Linked DNA regions of Homo sapiens. The protein of the gene in region 1 purifies or fractionates together with the protein of each later gene. This does not show direct contact. Each region holds a gene or a part of one and is shown on either strand. Other genes may lie near its edges. The genes, in order: RICTOR, KRT10 and CAD.

Region 1 (7,626 bases):
TCCTTATTAACAAGTTTATAATATTCAAAACAACCGTTTAAAGTATTTTTAATGTGAGTTTTAAAACTGTGATTTCACAATGTAGGAAGGCAACTAATGTTAAATATCACTTACAAAGTATCCGGTCTTATGCCAAGTACTTTAATTAAGAACTAGCTCATTTACTTTTCACATTCTTAACCCTTTGAAGTTATCTCTTATTTTAGAAATGAAGAAATCAGGGGTAAAGCAAGGTCAAATAACTTGCCCCAAATCACCCAACTATTAAATCTCACAGCTGAGGTTACAATCCAGAATGATTTGACTTTATAGTCAACTCTCTTTTCACTACACATTGATGGATCCTTTAGGGATTACAATGACCATGTCCTCTATTTTATAATGAGCTTTATTAGGTAACTACACAATGAATCTCTCAAAGATTAAATTTAAAAAATAAGAATAAAAGCAAACACTGCCTTGGCATTAAACAAAAAAATTTTTGGTTGCCCAAACTTTATCTTTTTACATACTGTAATCTAATCCACAAACAGCTGCCCTTCAGCTGCAACCCAAACTGCCTCACAGTTCTCAAATTATTACTAAACTTTAATTCCTCATGAATTTTCTTCAAGCCTTCTTTGAACAATGAAATGTCTGTCACAACAGCAACTTTTTAAAACAATAGTATCACTATAAAATGACTGATTCAGATTAATTCCAAACTTCCTTATGATTTAGAAATACAGATCTCAAACAATCCCTCACTCTTTATTTTTGCAATCAGTTTTAAATGGCTGTGTATACTTTATTCCAAACTGAAGTACATTTTGTCAGGGCAAGCCGAAAACAGCATTTTCTGCACTATCTATATTAACCTGGAAATACCTATGGACATAGGTGCTTACTAAATTCTCAGTTAATATGGCATTTTAAATAGTAAACAGTTACCTGTGTGCCTCAGTAAAACTGGAGTAAGCCAAAATTATCAAATCAGATGTGTACCTAAGCTCTTCCACAACTCAACATTTTTGACACCAAGCAGAGAAACCACTATATATAGGAGCTCGACGAACTCAATTTAAAATACAACTATATATTTCCAGCACCACATCTGAGCAGGTTTTTAATGCACAAGTTAAACTCAAGTTTATTAAGGGCTCCCTTCACCTTCATCTAAAACACATATGCCTGTATATAAATTAAATCACTCACTAATTACATCTTTTACAGACCTGAAATTGTAGAAGTTATCCTTGTTAGGAAGTTTTCTAGTGAATCTATTTTATATAGATTTTTCACATGTGTGTTATAGTCAAGTTTCCAAACAGTTGCACAGAAGTCAAAAGCTTTACATCTTTCTATACTAATTCTCAAAACCGATCTGCTGAAAAAAATGGTGGAAATTAGTGCATTGATAATCTAATTAGTAGCCATTTTCAGGATTTAAGCTCTACTATATTGTATTATATTTTAGAAACTGTCTTGTAAAAGGACCTAGTTCACCCAAAACTAAGTCCCTGAACTTTCAGAATAAAATATTAAGTTATAAAAATGTACTCTTGTAGCTAAGTGAAAGCTGACCATTCAGTTTATAAAACAGTAATCTTACATCGTGATAAGCAAAATAAAACAAATTAGAAAATGCACTATGCTTTCACTCTAGCCGTTGTCAACAAGGAGCCCAGCTTTAACAAATTACTGTAGATAACAGTCATTACGTCAGGTACGACATAGGGTAAAAAACTGATCTCATACAGAATGTCTACAACAAGTTTTTTTGTTTACTTCCTAAGGTGTTTTATAGACCTCAGAAACTGATTCTGTACAGCTGAACCGGGTTACACTCCAAGCTACAGCCCGTGTGAAATATGACTTCGTCGGAATCAGTAGGCTCAATCCTGTTTACCGTGGAAGAGAAAAGAATCTTGTACGTAACTACTAAATCTTCAACGAGATAATGTCGAATAAACTCTAGTACTGTAAGTGATAGAGGAAACACTGGCTAGTAACGGGATTAGGTCATTAAAAATATCACCCGAGTTTCCCCAGTTCGGAAGGTGTAAACAAACCCATCTCCACTGCAGAAGGTAAACAATGAACCTGCAGCAGGGTGAGGGGGCGGTCTTTAGCCAACTACAGTCCCAGCGGCCCGGGAAAGGGAAGCAGAAGGGAAACAGCATAAACCAGACATTTAGCAGTAATGACCAGTTCTAGGTTTCACTACCAAGTTATCAATGCTGCGGGTCCCCACAGGACGGTGGGCAAAGGGGAAAGCAGTCACGCAGTCGGCAAGCACCGAGCAGGTCCGGCTTCTGCTCCGGGGACGGGGAGGGCAGGATGTGGTCGCTCTTCCCTCAAACATCCTCCTGCAACCTAAATAACAGCCTCTACCTCCCTCCAGCTGCCCCTAGCTTGGGCTGCCGGACTCCGGGATAGGTGCAAACCACTCTGCCGGAGCTCGAGCCCAGAGGGTCGCCGGGTCTGCCGAGTTCCACTCGGGGCTCCCCCGCACCCGCAGCAGCCCGAGGCCCGGAGAAGGGCTCGGGCGAGGGAAGCGGGCGCTGGGTAGGGGGATGGGTCCGGCGAGGCGGCCCCGGGCTCGGTTCCCGCGGGCCGGCAGGCGGGGCTCCGGCTCTGGCCCCCGCACCCCGCCGGTCCCGTGCGGGGCCCGCCCCTGCCTCTGGCCCCCAGCCCCGGACCCGGCTCCTCCCCAGCAGCGCGCCCTCGCGGCGCCCGCGGCGCCCCGCGTTACCTCGGGTCAGATCCAGCGGGACGTTCTCCTCGCCGCTGTCATTCCGCCCTGCGCGAAACAGACACACAGCCCCAATTAGGATTGGCTCGCAGGCCAGCTGCGGCTGCCCTGGCTCCGGCCAGCGCCCCGGCTCGCTCCCCAACCCAGGGCCAGGGGAAGGCAAGTGCCAGGGGTGGCGGGCGCCGGGCGGTGGGGAGTGAGGGTTGCAGCGGGCTTACCTCGTACTCGGAGGTTCTTCAGAGAGCGGCCGCGGCCGATCGCCGCCATATTGACGGGTTTCAGTCACAACACCGGAAACCTCGCCCAATCGCGCGAGAACCCCTTCCCCTCCCCGCGCGCCGCGCCCGCCCCCCGCGGCACCTCCCCCGCCCCCTCGGCGGCGACGGCGGCGGGTGGTGCAGGCTCGGCCCCAGCGCTGAGGGAGCACTGAGCCGACCCAAGGTCTGCAAGGAGTTCGCGGCACCCGCCCGCCCACGCCGGACCCGGAGGGCACGTCCGCCGGGAGGGGCAGTTCCCACGAGGAAAGTCCCATTGATGCGAGTTGGCAGTGTAGAGGATGCTCCCCTCCGGCCGCCGCGGAAGCCGTCGTCCAAATGCAGGCGAGCGGGGAGGAGGAGGCCGGGATGCGGCCGGCGGGCCACCTGCTCTCGCCGGCCTGCCAGTCTCCTGCTTGCTCTGAAGCCCTGCCATAGACGGCCCCGCTCCCCCGTGTATCCACTGAAACATTTTTTTATAAAAACGCTGCGCACAGTTTTAGACTCCTTTCCTGGAATCGCTTTGCTCCAACTAAGTTAACACGTAACAAAGTTTGTTTTCCAGCCTCGCCCTTGATCTTCAGAATGCCCCTCTCGGCTAGGAGGGCTTCTCCAAGTGGAAGTGGTTAGGCAGTTTTGTTTTTGGCCGCCAGGCGTAGGACGCGAGAAGGGGGTGCAGCGGCCGGGGACCAGGGCGGCGGTCCCCGCGGTGGGATCGCGCCAGCGCCGGGAGGCCGGGGAGAGGGTGTTCTCTGCCGGGAGCCGAGGCGAGGCTGCTGGGTACTGTGTCCGGCTTTTATGGCTCTGCAGCTCCTAGGATCGTGGCTCATGCAGGTGTTGTGGATTAATCTATTTTATGCATAAGCCTATTAACATTAGGGATTTTAATTCTAGAAACTGCTTAGTTAATACGTATGTGTACACACACACACACACACACACACACACACACACACACACACACACACACACACACACACACACACACCTGGCCACTGACCCAGCAGCTTTCTCTTGAACTACATTTACTTTAAAGAGAGGAGCGATTTGTCCTCTCCAGTTCCTCAGCTCATCTTTCTATTCCATGAGACTGAAAGTTAATTAAAAGTGGAGATCTAGCCTTAACCAGTTCTGTTTTCCCAGCTCCCAGTTAATGCAATATCTGGCACAAATAAGTATTCAATAAATATCTGTTGGATGAGTAAGTGCCCTGGATTTCTAATTTATTCCAATTCTCTGCTTACTTTAAAAAAGAAAAAAAAAGCAATATTGGGGATATTTGTTGAAGTTGTTAATAAGAGTGAACATTTGGAAACACTTAAATGACCAAAGGTAGGGATTATGTAAATTATGTCAACGATTAAAAGTGAAGAGGTAGACTTAGTAATAGGAAATAATGTTCATGATATTAAATCAAGCAAAATATTACAAATTTCCTGTTTTATAATAAAAGTTTAAATATGTACGAAATTAAAAATATACATTATAAAATATTTTATATGTACATGTATGTTGAAAAAAGTCTGAAAATATACATGAAAATGTTAGCTGATTTTCTCCCCTCATTTGTGGAATTACACGTGCACTTTTTTGTTCTTGTTTGCTTGTCTCTACTTTTTAAATATCCTATAGTTAATATATGTCATTTGTAAAATAAGTGGTAAGAAGAAAAATAAAAGGAACATAAAGTAGCATCATCTGGAAAATAAAATAGGAACACTGCTTCCTTAGAATATTGCCAATTATCTATATATTCCAGTTCTTTTTTTTTTTTTAAACCAAGTCTACAATCAGATATCTGCGGCTGATACTGCACTTAGATTTAAGGATGTAACACAATTACAGTACTTTAAAGAAATGTCTTCTGGCATTACCAGTAGTAGTTTTAATGTCAACAAGCGTGCTCCCTCCGTTATAGCTTTAAAAATCTTGGTGCAATTTATTTATTCTAGTTACTGCCTAAAACAAAAATCACAAAACTTGAGGTCTGGCAGAGGGTTGGATTTCAACCCTCCATGTATCACCACATTTCACCCTTAAAGAAAAGTAGAGATCTATCAGTAGAAATTATACCAGATTCTTACAGTTGTTCTGATTTTCAACAAATCTTTTATCATATTATAAAATCCCTCTATATTCTACATTAACTCCTTCCTAATACAATTTAACTTCATTTTCTCTCGGTGTTTTATGAAAGTTGAGTACAACTAATCTACTTTTAAGTTACTTGAGGTACATAAGTGCCTAAATCCAGTAGTATTTTAATCATTATAACTGTATGCTATTAAAGACAATTATTCAATTACTCTATTTCTTGCAGGAGAAAAAATTACATTCAATCTTTCATCGAAACTAGTTTTTTCTCTGTTACTATTTCAGTCGTTTGAGTGGTTAGGTTCTCCATATTTGCTCTTAGAGTGAATGGCAGGTCTGGTGAAAAGGAACAAGTTATTAGTGTTTGCAAGTGACACTCAACTAGGAAGCAGAAGTTTAGATAAATTTTAGTAAGGAATACATTTTATAATGTGTTTGCTTTTTAAACAGTAGCACTACTTTATTGTTTATAGTCAGATTGATACTTGTTAAAACCCCTAAATTTTCTTCTTTGATACTTGCCAATTGCTAGCTATTCCTCCTTTTGAAACTTCTTTTTCTTCCTTGCATCTTTTAGCCGACCCATATGACTTACTCATTTTGTTTACTTCTTACTACTTCTCCAATTTTTATTTTGATTCTAATCTGGTCATTGAGAATGTGACTTCCTCTTCTTAGTTTTCGTTTCCCAGCTAGGTTTCATTTGCTGTGTCAGTGACTGTTTTTTTTTTTCTGGTAGTATTAGTCATTGATAAAAAATGTTCTATAAGAAGATCGAGTCCAGGACCATACCTTTGGAAGATAACTGCTTAATTCTGAGGATACAATTACTCCATTCATAGTCACTCCCTTGGTTCTATTCTCTACCCTCCTGCATGCAGTTAATAATTCTAGTATATAACTAGAATTCTAGTAATAATTCTAGTATGTAAACCATATTTTATCGGTTTGGGATACAGTTGTAATACTGAACAGAAACAAAAGCCTTATCAAAATCTTAGTTCCCTTTAATCTCTCTGCCTTGGTACATAGGCCATTTGAAGATAAAGCAAGTAAAAAGCCACAAAATTTGGTCAGACTATTTCTTGGTAACTTCATAGTTAAACCGCACATTTGAGACATCTAAAGGCCATTTACACGACAAGCAATGAATTAAATTTAACAAATGTTACAATCCCATCCAGTGTTAATTATGTCTTGGTCACAGCAGAACAGAGCCCCTGAGTATTGTGTCTTTAAATTTTAATCTCTGTCCCAAAATCTCATATAAATTTCCTTTTAAATAATTCTTTAAAGAGACTCTCTATGACTAACAGTTTTAAATGAAGAATAAACCTATGTTTATGGAAGATGAAGATATGTTAAAAAATGAAATCTAGAAGGGTATGCAGTAAAATTTCAACAGTTATTATCTACAGATGGTAGAATTTGGAGTGATTTTTCTCTCCCGTTTTCTCATTTTACTTGTTCCCAAACAAATTTTTACTCATGAATTTTTTTAGGAAAACTATTTTAGAAAAATTTTGTTGGCTATTCTAAACCAAAATTATAAACAGTTGATTATAATAATGACTTACTTAACAGGTCATTATAAACAATCAAAATTATTTGTGCATCTGTTCATTAAAAAAAGAACTTTTGCACATACACTGCAATACATATATATTCACTTTTTAAATTAAATTAGAACTTAAAACATAAACACAAAATAAAAATGGTTAAAAGTAATTTTTAATGTTATTTTACTAATGACACGAATACAAAGCAATGGGGCTGAATATACTTCATTATTCTCGACATTTCTTGTTATATACTTTGTGATACTGAAATTTAAAAGTCTAGTTCTAAGAAGAGTTTATGTGGGTATAGGGTTTTAATAGCTGAGACCTCACAAAATGCAAAGTTAAAAATGGAAGAACTACTGTATTGGCCGCATTTCTAAACCATAAAACTCATTTTCCCATTTCGTCCACCCAGTGATACAAAAGCTTTTTGAAATGTAATTTGGCTAACAAATATCCATCTTCCCTAATGTCAATCAGTTTTCCTATCAAACTAGTAATTTGGCTAACAAATATTCATCTTGCCTAATGTCAATCAGTTTTCCTATCAAACTAGAAGACATAACATTTAGAAATTTTCAGCAAAATGGTTGCAAAACCATTTATCTGAAAGATTTTGAAGCAGATTGGGAAACTCTGTTCCCATGATTTTCAAGTGTGCAGATATGAAAATTTATATATGTGACACATTTATATTTTAAGTTTTTTCAGAAAAAAATCACAAAACTGAAACACTTTCAAATATCTGTTTTCTAAATGCTCTCATCCTAGCACAGGTTTTTTGGAAGTATTAAATTTCTTAGTTATTGTTATCACATCTACCTTGAAGGGAAATTTTTTTTTAATTTTTTTTAAAAAATCTGATAGGTAACATGCTACTCGAAGCCACCAGTCATCATGAAAAAAAAGCTTGCCACTAAATAAATAGTAAACACCTGTATAATACAAAAGATTTTCTTCACCTCTCATTTCAAAGTGTGTG
Region 2 (7,487 bases), on another chromosome or scaffold:
TAATATCCAGGAGTTGTTGGTATTCAGTATTCTGGCACTCGGTTTCAGCTCGAATCTGTTGCAACTGTTCTTCCAGAGCGGATATCTGGGCCTGAATCTGTGAGAGCTGCACACAGTAGCGACCTTCTGTTTCTGCCAAGGAGGCTTCCAGGGATTGTTTCTGAAACGGATTTTTTTGTGGCTTAGTGACTTCCTTGTTCAGTTGAGTATGGTGACGCTTATTTGATTATTTAGTAAGGCATTATATAGAAGAATAAGAAAATGAACAGAATTTGTTGTATGTTTAATGGCACCATTTCAGTTTCAGCACTTTTAGATCAACACTAGTAGTACTTTTCCTCCATTAACATGAGCTTCACTTTGTTTTCTCTTTCTTACCTCCAACTCTGCATTTTTTTGTTGCATTGCATATTCTTAGGTGAGCATGAAACTTTGTATGATAAAGTTGAAGTCATTTCATGAGAGTTAACATACCAAGGCCAGTTGGGACTGTAGTTCTATCTCCAGAGCTTGTACATTACGTCTCAATTCAGTAATCTCAGATTTATAGCTGGATATCTGTTCAATGTTATTATCAATTTCTGTAGTCAGTTCCTTGCTCTAGAGTATTAAAAACAAGGAAAAGGGTGAGGAAATTCTGAAATGATAAAACCTCCATGAGTTTCACTATAAGGAAGATTACTTTACCTTTTCATTGAACCAGGCTTCAGCATCTTTGCGGTTTTGTTCAGCAAGTTGTTCATATTGGCTTCTCATGTTATTCAGAAGTTGAGTCAGATCAACACCCGGGGCAGCATTCATTTCCACATTCACATCACCAGTGGACACATTTCGAAGGTCTTTCATTTCCTGTTTGAGGAACAGAAAGATTTATTGGCTACACGAGGACCATAATGAACTCTCTTTTGGCTGGGAAAAGTATAACTTTTGTGTCACCTCCTCGTGGTTCTTCTTCAGATAGGCCAGCTCTTCAGTCAGGCTCTCAATTTGCATCTCCAGGTCAGCCTTGGTCAGGGTCAGCTCATCCAGCACCCTACGCAGGCCGTTGATGTCAGCCTCCACGCTCTGGCGCAGAGCTACCTCATTCTCATACCTGAAACAAGCATGATATCAATACTGGTTATAACTTATATAGGGGAGATGTATCTGGGCAGAGACTATTTAAAAAGCAGCTACATAGTTGATCTCATGTAATGGCAATATTTGTCATGTACAGTTCTCTTAGAAGTAATAGTGGTTTAATGGAAAAAACCTTAGCAGTTACTTTAAAATGCATTTTCTTCCTTTAATATTGCCAAAAAGGTAACACTGACATGGAAAATTTCTCAGATAACTCCAATACTATTTAACTTTGGGTGAATTCAGAAAAATGTAAATGTTATTGAGGGCATCCCAAGTCATTGTTAAAAACCACTGATGTATTCGTTGTGATAGTATTATACAACGATCACTTAACTTACTTCAGCCTGAAGTCATCAGCTGCCAGCCTGGCATTGTCGATCTGAAGCAGGATGTTGGCATTATCAGTTGTTAGGTTGAGAATCTGGAGGGAGAGGCACAGTTATTTGAGAAGAGGTCAGATGCAGATATGGCTTTTGTAGTGACATAGATGCACTCTGCACTTTTATGTTGTTCTCTTACAAAATCTTGGGAAAATTTTTTATTTTAAATATGAAATATTGCAGGCTTACCCATATACTTAACTTTGAATTATTTGTTCTCTTGGAATTTCTCCAGTCTTGTATTTCTGTACACGAATTATTCCTTTCTGAAAACTAACTGGAATTATATAGATGTATTCCTGTAAGTGTGCCCTCCTCTTTTAGACTATGTGATTTCCATGTATTTCAGCCATGCTTTGGCTGACTCACACCTGCATTTGTTTAACTCATGATAAATACTAATAAATAAATACACTCTGAACTGGTACACAATAGGTACAATTCAGAAATTCCTTAGAGGCAAGCAGTGTCCCATTTTCATACTGGAAAATTTATTTTTCTTGCCATGTTGGTACTGAATATGGCTTGTTATCAGTCTGAATAACATTTTGTTCTGATTCATATCATGATTTTTTTTTTCAGTTTCTACATTTGTAAATAGCCTAGCATATTTTAACTGTGGACTCATTGTATGCTCATTAAAACCTCAAAAGTGCTTAGTAAATCTCCCATCCTCTTAAGACAAGTAGCACACTTGCTGGATGAAGATTGCCATGACCATAGTTTCACAGATGTTTATCTTTGATGAGACTGGGTTATTTTTGAAGGAAGAAAGTAACATGGGTAAGCATAGTGAACAGCCACATTGTGCTTAATTTAAGATTCATCTGTCTGGATTACATGGACAAGATACTTAAAGCTGGATTTAAAAATACCTCTTACCTGATTTTTAAGGTCATCGATGGTTTTGTAGTATTTGCTGTAGTCACGAGGCTCCCCCTGATGTGAGTTGCCATGCTTTTCATACCACTCCTTGATTTTGCCTTCCAGCTCATAGTTTGATTCTTCCAGAGCCCGAACTTTGTCCAAGTAGGAAGCCAGGCGGTCATTCAGATTCTGCATGGTTACTTTTTCATTTCCAGAGAGAAGGCCACCATCTCCTCCAAATCCACCACCAAAGCCTCCTCCAAAGCCGCCTCCACCAAAGCCGCCTCCACCAAAGCTGCCCCCACCAAAGCTGCCACCTCCGAAACTGCCCCCTCCAAAGATGCCTCCATAACTCCCACCAAAGCTGCTACTTCCATAGCTTCCACGAAAGCTACCTCCACCAAAACCTCCTAATCCTCCATAGCCACCTGATGAGCCCCCAAAGCAGCCCCCACCAGAGCTCCCACGGCTAAAAGAGCCACCACTGAACCCCCCTGAGCTAAATCCTCCACCAAGGGAGCCTTTGCTGCTAGAAATTCTTAGGGATGACACTCCTCCTCCTCCTCCACATCCTCCTCCTCCTCCTCCTCCTCCACTGCGGGAGGAAGAGTAGTGCTTGCTTGAGCTGTATCGAACAGACATGGTGATGCTGTTTAGCCCAGGGAGTGCCTGCTACCAAGGACAGTGACAAGCCTTTATATACTGAGAGGGTGTGTCCACATGTGTTAGAGTTTGCTTACTTACATTGTTTTCTTTTTGCCAACTTAGCATCTTTGGCTTATGATTGCATAAATTATCTTCAGTAATAACCAATCCTAATATGTACAATTTTGAATTTGCCCTAAGAATAAACAGGAGGTTTGCTATGTTGAAATTGAAAATGGGTGGAGTTCAGATGAGCATGTTTTATTATGCTTTTCACCTGTTGAAGAACATTGAGCAACCGTTAAGATCCATTTTTCTCAGCACTAATTCAGGTTGCATAGAATGTTTGCAAAGTTTAGAAAAAAAAGTTTCAGCTACAAAATTATAGTTAAAATAAGATTTTTCAAATTCATGTTTTAAACAGTTTTAATTGGAGCAACAAATAGCATAAAGTCTGGCAGGATCATGCTACAATAAGGTTCTTGTAGACAACTGTAGGGAATCAAAAAGAAAAAGTTTCTAAAAATTTAACTAGCATCAATAGTTGCCACACATAAAACATTAAAGCCATAAAACCACAATTTAGGAGATTGTGTTTGTAGGAGATCTTTTAATTTATTTGGCAAATGAGAGTATATTGATATTTTGCCTAAGAAAGTGGAAGTAATGATTTTAGAATTTTCTAATTAATGATGGCATTATTTTTAACATTAAAAAATCTGAAATCATAAAGTTATCCTGGATTATTTTGCACTTTTAAATTCATCATAGTTAAGGTTTCTGTGAAGACCATAATAATGCAGAAAATCTGCATTATTTTCTTAGCATGAAATCCGAAGAACTAACTTGTAGTACTTTACACTAAGTTCTGATTGAGTAAAAAGGGAAAATTTGGATATGTTATGATTGCAAGTAAAAATTTGCTTGCAAAAATGTAAATCTATATTAGAGAATGATACTTGCACCAAATATTATGAACTAGACTGTGCACATGTGTTCCCAAGCTAGGTTCAGTTTCTCAATAAAAACAACACATTTTCTTGGATATACTGTGTACAGAATTTGGTATAACAGTTTGTCTAGTGAAGTAAATTGGGATTTTGGTACATTGTATAAGATTATATCTACCCATAGGCTATGACATTGCTGTTGTTTGGATGTATATATTCATACATGTTTTACAATTATGTAGTGCTGTTTGTGATACTGTGCTTTAAAAATTTCTAGAACAAGCTGTTGAGATAGGAATGGTGGTTATTATTATTTCTTTTCTTTCTTTCTTTCTTTCTTTCTTTTTTTTTTTTTAGACGGAGGCTTGCTCTGTCGCCCAGGCTGGAGTGCAGTGGCGCCATCTCGGCTCACTGCAAGCTCCACCTCCCGGGTTCACGCCATTCTCCTGCCTCAGCCTCCCGAGTAGCTGGGGCTACAGGTGTGTGCCACCATACCTGGCTAATTTTTTGTCTTTTTGGTAGAGACAGGGTTTCATCATGTTAGCCAGGATGGTCTCAATCTCCTGACCTCTTGATCTGCCTGCCTTGGCCTCCCAAAGTGCTGGGGTTACAGGTGTGGTTATTGTTATTTCTAATTTATAGAAGAGGAAGTTGAAGTTGAGAGGTTGTGATTTTTTCCTGAAGATATGTAACAGGTGGTTGAACTGCAATTAGAAGCTTGGTCTTTTAACTCCTTGGTTCTTTTCCACTTTACCAATGTGTATATATATTATCTGCTCCAGTGGATTTGGTCTAATGGAGATGAATGACTCTAATTCTCACCGTAAACTTCTCCAAATGGGGAAAAAGAGCAAAACAAAAAGAACTTAGAATCATGAAAATATTCAAAGGGTAATGATTTGGCACACACTCTACCTTTAGTAATTGTTTTTTCAAATTAAGTTTATTGCTGCACATTTTGGTTTATGAAAACTACAGAAATAGTTTCTGTAGGGAAGGGAGTGTGGTTGGGAGCATTAATCAAATGTTGATTGTTAAAGTGGAGGTTACTACCCAGCAGATTGCAACTCTTCCAACTTGTTAGCACATGCAAATGGGGCAGTAGTTAAAAGAAAAACTGAAACCCAACCATGGGAATTGATTCTTGATGAAGATAACCTACAGTTAAAGAAGGCTATGATAAATCAGGATAGGAAAAGAAAAAACTCCAATAACTTCAGAGAACATGTTGAAACCTTGATATTAATGAAATCTTTTTGGAAAGAAACATTTTAATTAAAAAGATATTTTGATTGATTTTACCTGTAATTAGCACAAGTTTTGGATCTTAGTATTACCAATTTTGTTTTAGTATTAGCCTATAATTTCTCCCCCCAGTGGAAAATATAAAAATCCCAGTCTCCTTTCAGTTAATTAACAAGTGGTATGAAGAGAGCTCTGTTACAATCATATTAAACCAAAGAATATATGAAAGGGAATCTTTGCATAAAAGTACATAAGAACAAATACAGGTATGGAGGGCCTTCTAATACTATAACATTTAATTTAAGCTACCTTTACTGTTATTACCAAAGATTACTTATTAACTTGTATACTGTAGAAATTGATTTGTCTTTATTCACACTGTCATTTGTTGAAATCAGCCTTTGGCATGAGTAAAATTAAGAGATGCCACATAATAATTCTACAGCTAAATTGGATGAACATTTATGATTCTAGTCTTGGCACCATTTACACTTGATTGCTATAATCCACTGTAACTGTATTTTCATTGTGCTCAATTTTTATTGTGTCTCTATGTAAAGTGCATTGGTAGGTATTTAAAATATAGAAAAATGAATGAGATACACCTCCCGTCCTTATGGATCTTGCCAGTAGTTACAGTCTAATTGAGGAGACATGACATATACCATCAGTTTAAGCACTGTATGCTATATAAATGGAAAATGATGGTGGGGCTTGGATGTGTAGGGGGAAGGAGTTAACATTTCCGGAATATCTCTATGATCTAGATGGTTTACTTTTCTTTAATCCTGCCCTAGGTTCTCTAAGATAGGTATTATTATCTCGTTTAATAGCTAAAAAACCTAAACCTTAAAAAGTTTTAGAAATTTGCCAGATTATGTATGTATTTGTTTATTTATATATCAGCAGTGTCTGTGTGATGACACACAGCCTGGTTTTGAATCAAGAGATACAGTTACAAAGGTGCTAGTTTTCATGACACCAGACTGGCATTCTTAAGACTAATGAGCAAGGGGTCATGTTGGAATGGGGCCAATTGACAAAGTTTCATGGTGCAGTTGAAATTTAAGCTGAGTCCTGTAAGGATGAGTAGGACTTTTCATGTGTGCAACAGCAGAGAGAAGACTTCTGGGAAGTCAGGACTGTGAAAATGCCAAGCAAGTGGAGACACTGAGTGACCAGTTTGGCTGGAGTAGATCATCCGTATATGTTAATTTATTCATACCTTCAGCAGGTTTTATTGAGCACCTGCAATATGGCCTGGGGAAGGCATAGGTGACCAAGATACAGCTCCTACCCTTCAAGGAGTTTACAATCTACTTGGAGAGGCAAACAAACATACCCACGAATCAGAGATTATAATATAGGGTAATCTGGGCTATATTTGAGCAATGTTCAGGGTTCCGAGGAATTACAGAGAGGTTGTCTAACAGTCTAGTGAATGTGTGTGTGTGTGTGTGTGTGTGTGTGTGGTGTGAGTGCACAATGAAAGAATATTGAAGTAAAGTTCGGGATTGAGGATGAGTTTTGGTTTAAGACGTGAATTTGAGGTAATACCAGGATATTCATGTAAACATGTCTTTAAGCAATTATGGGACTGCTGTTAAGGAGAGAGATTCAGAATAGCAGATTTTGGGGGTAGTTAGGATCCCTAAGGGAAGGAATTTAGAGAGAAATGTACAGAAGGTCTAATTCTGAACTTTTGGAGTCACTTTAGGGGCTGGGAAGAAGAAGTAGAGCTAGAGAATAATCCTGAAAAGAAGGACATCTAGGACCAGGGAAAGGGGGAAAGAGGATCAGTGAAGCCAAGGGAGAAGAGAACGTGGGTGAGGTGATCATCCGAGAGGTCAATGAAAAGATGGATTGAGGAAAGTAATTTGGAACCATTGGCATCCTTCCAGAGGACAATTTTAATTGAGTAGTGGTGGGGCAATTCATGATGCATACCCAATATTGGAATTGATGACTTTGCTTATGGTATTTTATTTTCATGTTGTCCAGTTTATCAATTTCTTCTTTAATTGCTTCTGAACTTTGAGTCGTGGTTAAGACGGATATAGTTGCTATTCGCATGGGGTTAATTTGGCCGGAGCTCTAGAAGCATGTTGTGGATTCAAGTTTGTTATCAGTTTGACTTGTCTCACTGTTGGGATTTGGATCCTTTTTATTTCTTCCTTATTTTGCTTCAAGTAAAATCCGCTTTTGAAGTTTCTAGCTGAAAATTCTATTTGCAAGTTTCTTTTTCTGATTGAGATATAATACATATAATTGAGATATA
Region 3 (7,106 bases), on another chromosome or scaffold:
GCTCCTTCTGCACCATCATACGCAGTGTGTGTGCCACATTGAACAGGTGAGACATCTAAGAAAGAGCCCAAGTTAGCTAGAAAGGTCCTAGCCCCAGCTTTCCAAATCCTCAAAGCTCTGGGTGGTCCCATCCTCCCTGCCCCAGGCACCTGATCCTTGGTGAACTGCTGGACGGACAGGATATGTTGGCCCACTAATGAGTGCAGCAGGGGTGAGGTCTGGGGGTGCAGCAAGCCAGGGGTCCCCAGGTTCTGGGGAGATGCCTGTCTCGGTACTGGTGGTGGAGGGTAGCAGGTGCCATCAGGGGTTCCCATCAGCTCTGCAGTGAGGGATGGGGCAGAAAAGGCTGGTCAGAGGGTTCCTCCTACCAAGGCCAGATCAGAGGTCCCCGAGGTGAGTGTGTGTCAGGGTGGAGTCTCACCTGGCTCGGCTACCTTCCGAGAGGACTTCTCCTTTGGCTCCTCAGCTGCAAACAGGACAAGAGGACAGATATACATTTATGGCTGAGGTTTGGAAAGAAACCCCATATTCCCAGGAACTCTGAATCACAGTGTATATGTTAAACCAATTCACAACACAGTAATATAGCAGGTTAGGGGAGGGCAGGGGACTGCAGCAGCTCTGGGGACAGACAGGTGGCTTCCCATGGGGCTGTGTTGTATGGGAGCAGTGGTGCCCTCCCGGGGCTCTCCCAGTTGGCAAAGGCATCCTAGGCAAGAGGAACGGCCAGACTCACACCAACCAACAACCTGGATTTACCCCACGCTCTGCTGCCCCGTGGGATCCCAGCTCCTGGGCGGAGGAACACAGCTGCCCACAACAAAAAAGGGCATGTGAGAAGCTGTGAGATGTCTACTCACACCGGGGAGACTTGTTTAGGCAAAGGATGGCACGGCAGATCAGACGAGGATAAAGGGATGGAGAGGAGGACATGTAAGTAGAGAAAGGCGAGGCACTGGGAAGAAGTGGATCCTGTCCCTACACAGTCTCTGAGTCACAGGAACCCCACTCTTACCTGGCAAACCTGGGTCGGAGGCTCGATGGATTCGGGGCGGCAGATGGAAGCGGCCATCAGGAAGCCCTGGGATGCCACGGCGGGGTCTTTCAGGTGTCTGGAGGGATAACGTTGGCCCAGAGTTGTTTTTTTTTTTTTCTTTTGAGACGGAGTCTCGTTCTGTCGCTCAGGCTGGAGTGCAGTGGCGTGACCTTCTGGGTTCAAGCAATTCTCCTGCCTCAGCCTCCCAAGTAGCTGGGATTACAGATGTGCACCACCACGCCTGGCTAATTTTTTTATTTTTAGTAGAGATGGGGTTTCACCATGTTGGCTAGGCTGGTCTTAAACTCCTGACCTCAGATGATCCGCCTGCCTTGGCCTCCCAAAGTGCTGGGATTACAAGTGTGAGCCACCACATCTGGCCTGGCCCAGCATTTTAAAAAAATAATTGACCCAACCCCACTTCAAATTCAGTCCCTCAAGAAAACCCCAATTGTTCCTGAACCACCAATGAAAATGTTCAAGCTGTTCATCCTGCCCTGAGACTAACACCTCCCAGCCCCCTAGCCCAGTAGTGTGGATACCGTGGTCATCTCACTAGTGGCAGGGGCTGAGGGTGGGAGCTGAGGAACAGCCCCCTGTGGCCACTTCCGTACATCCTGTCCATAGCCCGGGGGTACCAGAACCTGCAGGCAGAAGGCAGGGCACTCAGGAGGGAGCAGAGAGAACTCAGGTCCTAAAGGGGTAGATGTCAGCAAGGACAAAAAGCACCTTGGGGGAGCTGTGCCCCCAACCCCTGGTCCAGGGCAGTGGTGCACATAGTGGGACAGTGTAGATGTGCTGGGAAGGGAAGAAATGAACGTGGTGCAGAAGAGGGCACTACTGAGATCAGGCAGGGGCTACTTGCGTACCTGCCCATCGATATAGGCAACCTCCCCTCGCAGGACCACACGGCGGACGGTGCCCTTCACTTTCTGCCCTTCAAAAGGTGTCCAGTGGGCCTTGGAGAAGGGCATGTGGCTGGGAATTGTCCACTCATGCTCCAGATCCACCTGCCCAGAGGACATGGGTTATGCTAGGGAAAGGATCCCCAGAGAACATATCCTAGGGCTGGAGAGCCCCCCTCCTGCTCTGGGCCTCATCCCCACACCTCCACATAGGTGTCCTCCTGCGGGGGCAGGTGAAAGATGCGCCGAGGATTGTGGTGCAATCGCTGCAGCAGGTCGTCCAGGCTGAGCCGGCCCTCGCTTACAGCCGTCAGGAGTAGTGGCAGCATGGTCTCTAACCCTGGGAACCCAGGTGGGGGCCTGGACCCACACTTCTCCTCCAAGGTATGGGGAGCTGGGAGAAAGAAAGCCATTACCCTCAGGACCAATCACCTCCATGTCTAGGAAGTCACTCACACCCCAGGACTGCACTTCCAACAACCTCCTTATGCTCACTACCACTCCCAATGCTCATTTTTTCTGGGAACTAGAAACAAGGGCAACAGGACTGCTGCCATCTTCTGGAGCCCACACTTTTACCCATGTATTCTTTCACTTGCAGTTCTACTCACTGGCTCATTCATTCTTTCAACAAGTATTTATCAGGCACCTATCACAGACCAGGTACCCTAGAGGCTAGGGTCCCATACGGATCAAGACCCTGTCCTAGTAGAGTCCTGAGGCCTGGCCTGCTTCCCATTTTCTTGCTAGGGCTGTCCCACAAGCCCCACTGGGCAGAGGAGGTACATGCTGGATTCTCTCACCATGGTCTGAGGCAAAGCAGTCGATGACAGCCATGTTCTCCCACAGGGCTTCCACATCCTGGCGGGAGCCAAGCTCAGGCCGGACCTCCCCCTTCCCAGGCCCCAGGCGCTCCAGGTCATCATGGCTTAGGAACAGGTGGTGGGGAGCCACCTCGCAGGTCACTGGCAAGCCCCGTGCCTTTGCAGCTTTAATTAGCAGGATCTGGGGAACAATGGGAAGATCCAGAAGAGGCACCACCCATATGCCTTGCCCTACACAAAGTCCCAATGGCCAACATCCCTGCTCAAAAAATGATGATGTAGACCTGCAAGGGTGCTGGCTCGAGACCCTCCTCCTGCTGTCTCCAGACTCTCCTCCTGCTGTCTCCTGCCCCTAAGGACTACCCTGACCTTTGGTGTTACTGGGAAAGCAACAGGGACAGCAGGATCTCAGGTGTACTCTTACCTCCTCCTTCCGTGCCACGTGACATATGTGCACTGAGCGCTGAGTGAGCTGAGCCACCATGAGGACAGCAGCCACGGTTTGCTGCTCTGCGTGAGCCACAATGGGGAGGTGGGAGGGCCATGTCTCGAAATGCTGGGAGCAGAAAGAACTGATGAAGGAGTGTGCAGAATCTCTGACTGTGCTCATCAGAGCCCAGAGTCCCCAGGAGCTCCCCTGAATCCTCACTGCTACCAGCCCACTTAGGCAGGGGCCCACAAGCCAGGAGACACTGGGTGGTGGCCTCCTGCCACATGCACACTCCCTACCTCCATCCACTGGACCACGCTGTCCAGCCGCAGCTCAGAGAAGGTCTCATTGAGGTAAAGCTTCAGCCCGGCTGCAGACCCGGCCACGGTGCCCAAGGTTCCTGCATTTTCAGACGAGGCCCCAAGGAATAGCGCAAAGTCGCACCGGGCGCCAGCCTCTGCCAGCTGGAGAGGATACACAGAGGTAAGGCTCACTGGCACCCATGCCCACACAGGCTAGCCTGGCACCAGTGGCCTGGGCCCATAGGGCGGGGCAGAAGGAAAAGGGCTCAGGGAAGCAAGGGTGGCTGGTAGGGGCATATGGGTCTCCAATACCAGGAAGAGTGCAGTGGCTCACCTTCTGGGCCAGGGCCAGAGCAGGGGCGTCAATGATGGGGGGCCGGGTATTAGGCATGGCACACACCATGGTGATACCCCCAGCCAGGGCAGCGGCTGTGCCTGAAGCAAAGTCCTCCTTATGTGTCCCACCTGGTTCCCGCAGGTGCACATGGACATCAATCAATCCTGGGAGAAAATGGAAGCAGCAAGATTACAGGAAGATTCAGAAATAGGAAGGGTGAGCTGGACATGGTGGCTCACGCCTGTAATCCTAGCACTTTGGGAGGCCGAGGTGGGCAGATCACCTGAGATCAGGAGTTCGAGACCAACCTGACCAACATGGTGAAACCCCGTCTCTACTAAAAACACAAAAATTAGCCTGGTGTGGTAGCACACACCTGTAATCCCAGCTACTTGGGAGGCTGAGGCAGGAAAATCGCTTGAACCTGGGAGGCGGAGGTTGCAGTGAGCCGATATCACACACCACTGCACTCCAACCTGGGCGATGGAGTAAGACTCTGTCTCAAAAAAAAAAAAAAAAAAAAAATTCCTCAGACAAGGCCACTGTGGACACTGTGGATTAAGGAATGAAAGAGTGAGAAACATTCTGGGGTCTTCACAGTCTGTGCAGTCCAGGACAAAGAGTGGGCCCCCCAGCCATCCTTCACCACACTGCAGGTCTCTATGCCAGGGGCTGCCAGTGTTCAGAAGCCAAGTTCTCCCCAAAGACTTACCCGGCAGTCGCACAAGCTTTTGGGAGGTCATACAGTCAACATGCACCTTCAAAGGAGGGGCTGGCCCGATCTGGCCTAGGGCCTGCAAGTGGAAAGCAGTCAGCTTTAAGGGAAGGGTGATCCTGGGAGTTGTAGGGAGAGATGTGGTTTTCCCATAAACCAGGCTCTGCACACTCTATACCCACCATCTCTCCCTCTGTAGCCACAAAGCTTTATTACTAGCATGGCTGTTCCATACTCACTCCTCCCTCTTTCTTCTTCCCATCAACACTGGCAGTCTCCCTCCCAGCACATGGGTCTCAGTTACCTCCACAAAGAGTTTGGTGCACTTGATATCGATGATTAGGGGCACGGAGAAGTCAGCGGCCAAGCGTCGGGTGCGGTAGCCCTTGGTGACAAAGGAAGAGAGACGCCGGCCCCCAGCTCCACGCATTGACAGGTTAATCACCAGCTCAAAGTTTTTCTCAGCTAGCTGCTCCAGGATGCTCCGCTGTGGTGGGCACTCACCATCCACAGCCTCCTCAAAGTGCCAGTCCACAGCTGTTACCTGCCAACCCGGAGTCAAGGTCAGGGCCAAGCTGTCTGGCAGCGGTCAGGAAGGCTAGCCTTAAGGGAGAGGAGCTGGCCCAGGAGCCCATGATGAGGAGACTGAGGACCCATAGGGTGGGCACTGAGGGCTGCCTCTATTTGATACTGGCAAAGTGTATTTCTTGGCAGGAAAGATATCTACACTAAGTAAGATGGGTTACCAAGGACTAGGTGCAGTATGAGCTCACACACATGTACACAGAGAAAATCCTGGAAGGAAAAATATCAGAACAGTGGTACAGAGATTTTAAGAGACTTTTCTCTTTGCTTCCTGTGTATTCTGCTTTCTGCATGGAATATAGCTTACTAGTATAATGGTAATAATAAAAGCAGGGGAATAGGAGATAATTCTTTGTTTTTTTTTTTTTTGAGACAGCATCTCACTGTTTCCCAAGCTGGAGTGCAGTGGTGCACTCACTGCACACTCGCAGCTCACTGCAGCCTCTACCTCCTGGGCTCAAGAGATTCTCCTGCCTTAGCCTCCTGAGTATCTGGGACTACAGGTATATGCCACCGTGCCCAGCCCAGATAATTCTTTGGTGCAGTATTTTCACCCCCTTGGGGAAGGGCAGCAGTGGGGTAGGTTGCCAGAGTTCCTGCACCTTGACGCCATGCTCAGTGTAGAAGTCAGCTGTGCCGAGACTGGCATAGAGGCTGTAGCCCAGGCTCTCCAGTAGCCGCACAGTTGGGAGCAGCTCGCTTTTGTTCTGAAACCAAACAGAAGGATGAAATTGTTTTCTTCCTGTCTTCCATTTCAAGGTCAGCCCTGGCCCAGGGAGCCACGGCCCTCGGGAAGCCCTCCTGGATTCTGATACCTTATAGCTGCCAATGGTCAGCAGGATATTCTTCTTGGGGATCTTAAAGCCAGTGCTTAGCATGGCCTTGAGGTATGCCTCACAGCGGCTCTCCCCAAAGCCGGCCACCTCCCCAGTACTGGTCATTTCCACACCCAACACCACGTCAGCACCCGCCAAGCGGGAGAAGGAGAACTGAGGCACCTAAAGGGGCGGGAGGGAAGAGAGAGGGCCAAGGTGTGAGAGGACCTCCTCCCTCACCAGCAGAGACGGACACAGTACCCTGTGCTTGATCCCATCTGAATGGCAGGGTCAGCCTGCCCTCTCTGTGTGCCCTCCTGCTTTCCAAACGTACTTGGGGTCATCCCTCAGCTTCTGCTTAGGATGTGCCCTTGCAAATAAAAAACCTTAACCATCCTTCAAAACTCAATTCAAATAGCACCCCTTCGCTCAAGCCTTCCCAGATCACCCCTTTTGGAAGCAGCACCTCCTGTCTCTTGAACTCCTGCAGCATTCTGTTTACAGGTCGAATATGTAGTTTTACCACGGACTGTTCTATACCAAAGCTTTTTTGGGGATCCAACTTCTCTTCCCTCCCATTACCATAAAGTAAGCTCTTAAGGGACAATGACCACCTCATTACCCCCACGATCCGGCAATGCCTTGCAGTCAGTGCCTGGTTTACATACTGACAACTCTGTGTGGTGAGTGAACTCTCTCCCGCTATTTTTCTGCTAACCCCAAGGGTTTCGATATTCCTTACCTTTACTCCCACGACTCCAGAACCAGTCATTAGCCCCACAGGTTCCACTTCTTCCCCCATGATGACCCGCGTGGCCAAGGCTACTAGGTCCACACCCAGTGTCTTGGAAACGAAGGGGAAGGAGCGAGAGACACGTACGTTGCATTCAATAACTTTCAGCTGGTCATCCTGGGGCAGAGAAGACTGGTCAGGCCTTCTGCAGGTTGGCCTTGCTGACACTATCTATAGGCCTAGACTCTTCCTCTCCGTCCTCAGCTCTGGGGGATCAGACTGAGCAGGGTTCAGGGTCACTGACTGTCATAAGCCCCAACACCATGAGCTCTAGCTACAGCCCTTTCCCTCCAGCTTCCCTGCCTACTTGGATGAAGGCAGGAGACAGTGCAGGGCTTCATGGCACTGTGGCCAGCACAGAACA

What was found.
Region 2: the proteins of RICTOR (region 1) and KRT10 purify together in Homo sapiens (affinity purification with mass spectrometry; 2 studies listed by BioGRID and IntAct, with this or other methods). This does not show direct contact.
Region 3: the proteins of RICTOR (region 1) and CAD purify together in Homo sapiens (affinity purification with mass spectrometry; 2 studies listed by BioGRID and IntAct, with this or other methods). This does not show direct contact.

The regions. Positions count from the first base shown.
Region 1 is NC_000005.10:39,071,377-39,079,002, forward strand, and holds the start of RICTOR (rapamycin-insensitive companion of mTOR), read right to left. Parts: upstream 3,024-7,626; 5' UTR 3,002-3,023; coding exon 2,953-3,001; intron 2,783-2,952; coding exon 2,735-2,782; intron 1-2,734. UniProt on the Homo sapiens protein: Component of the mechanistic target of rapamycin complex 2 (mTORC2), which transduces signals from growth factors to pathways involved in proliferation, cytoskeletal organization, lipogenesis and anabolic output.
Region 2 is NC_000017.11:40,819,575-40,827,061, forward strand, and holds the start of KRT10 (keratin, type I cytoskeletal 10), read right to left. Parts: upstream 3,041-7,487; 5' UTR 3,012-3,040; coding exon 2,385-3,011; intron 1,544-2,384; coding exon 1,461-1,543; intron 1,094-1,460; coding exon 937-1,093; intron 850-936; coding exon 688-849; intron 601-687; coding exon 475-600; intron 161-474; coding exon 1-160. UniProt on the Homo sapiens protein: Plays a role in the establishment of the epidermal barrier on plantar skin.
Region 3 is NC_000002.12:27,234,271-27,241,376, reverse strand, and holds part of CAD (multifunctional protein CAD), read right to left. Parts: intron 6,860-7,106; coding exon 6,692-6,859; intron 6,133-6,691; coding exon 5,950-6,132; intron 5,842-5,949; coding exon 5,737-5,841; intron 5,094-5,736; coding exon 4,854-5,093; intron 4,629-4,853; coding exon 4,547-4,628; intron 3,999-4,546; coding exon 3,832-3,998; intron 3,660-3,831; coding exon 3,495-3,659; intron 3,322-3,494; coding exon 3,190-3,321; intron 2,947-3,189; coding exon 2,745-2,946; intron 2,336-2,744; coding exon 2,145-2,335; intron 2,047-2,144; coding exon 1,906-2,046; intron 1,681-1,905; coding exon 1,579-1,680; intron 1,113-1,578; coding exon 1,016-1,112; intron 811-1,015; coding exon of another isoform or gene 760-810; intron 467-759; coding exon 422-466; intron 320-421; coding exon 150-319; intron 56-149; coding exon 1-55. UniProt on the Homo sapiens protein: Multifunctional protein that encodes the first 3 enzymatic activities of the de novo pyrimidine pathway: carbamoylphosphate synthetase (CPSase; EC 6.3.5.5), aspartate transcarbamylase (ATCase; EC 2.1.3.2) and dihydroorotase (DHOase; EC 3.5.2.3).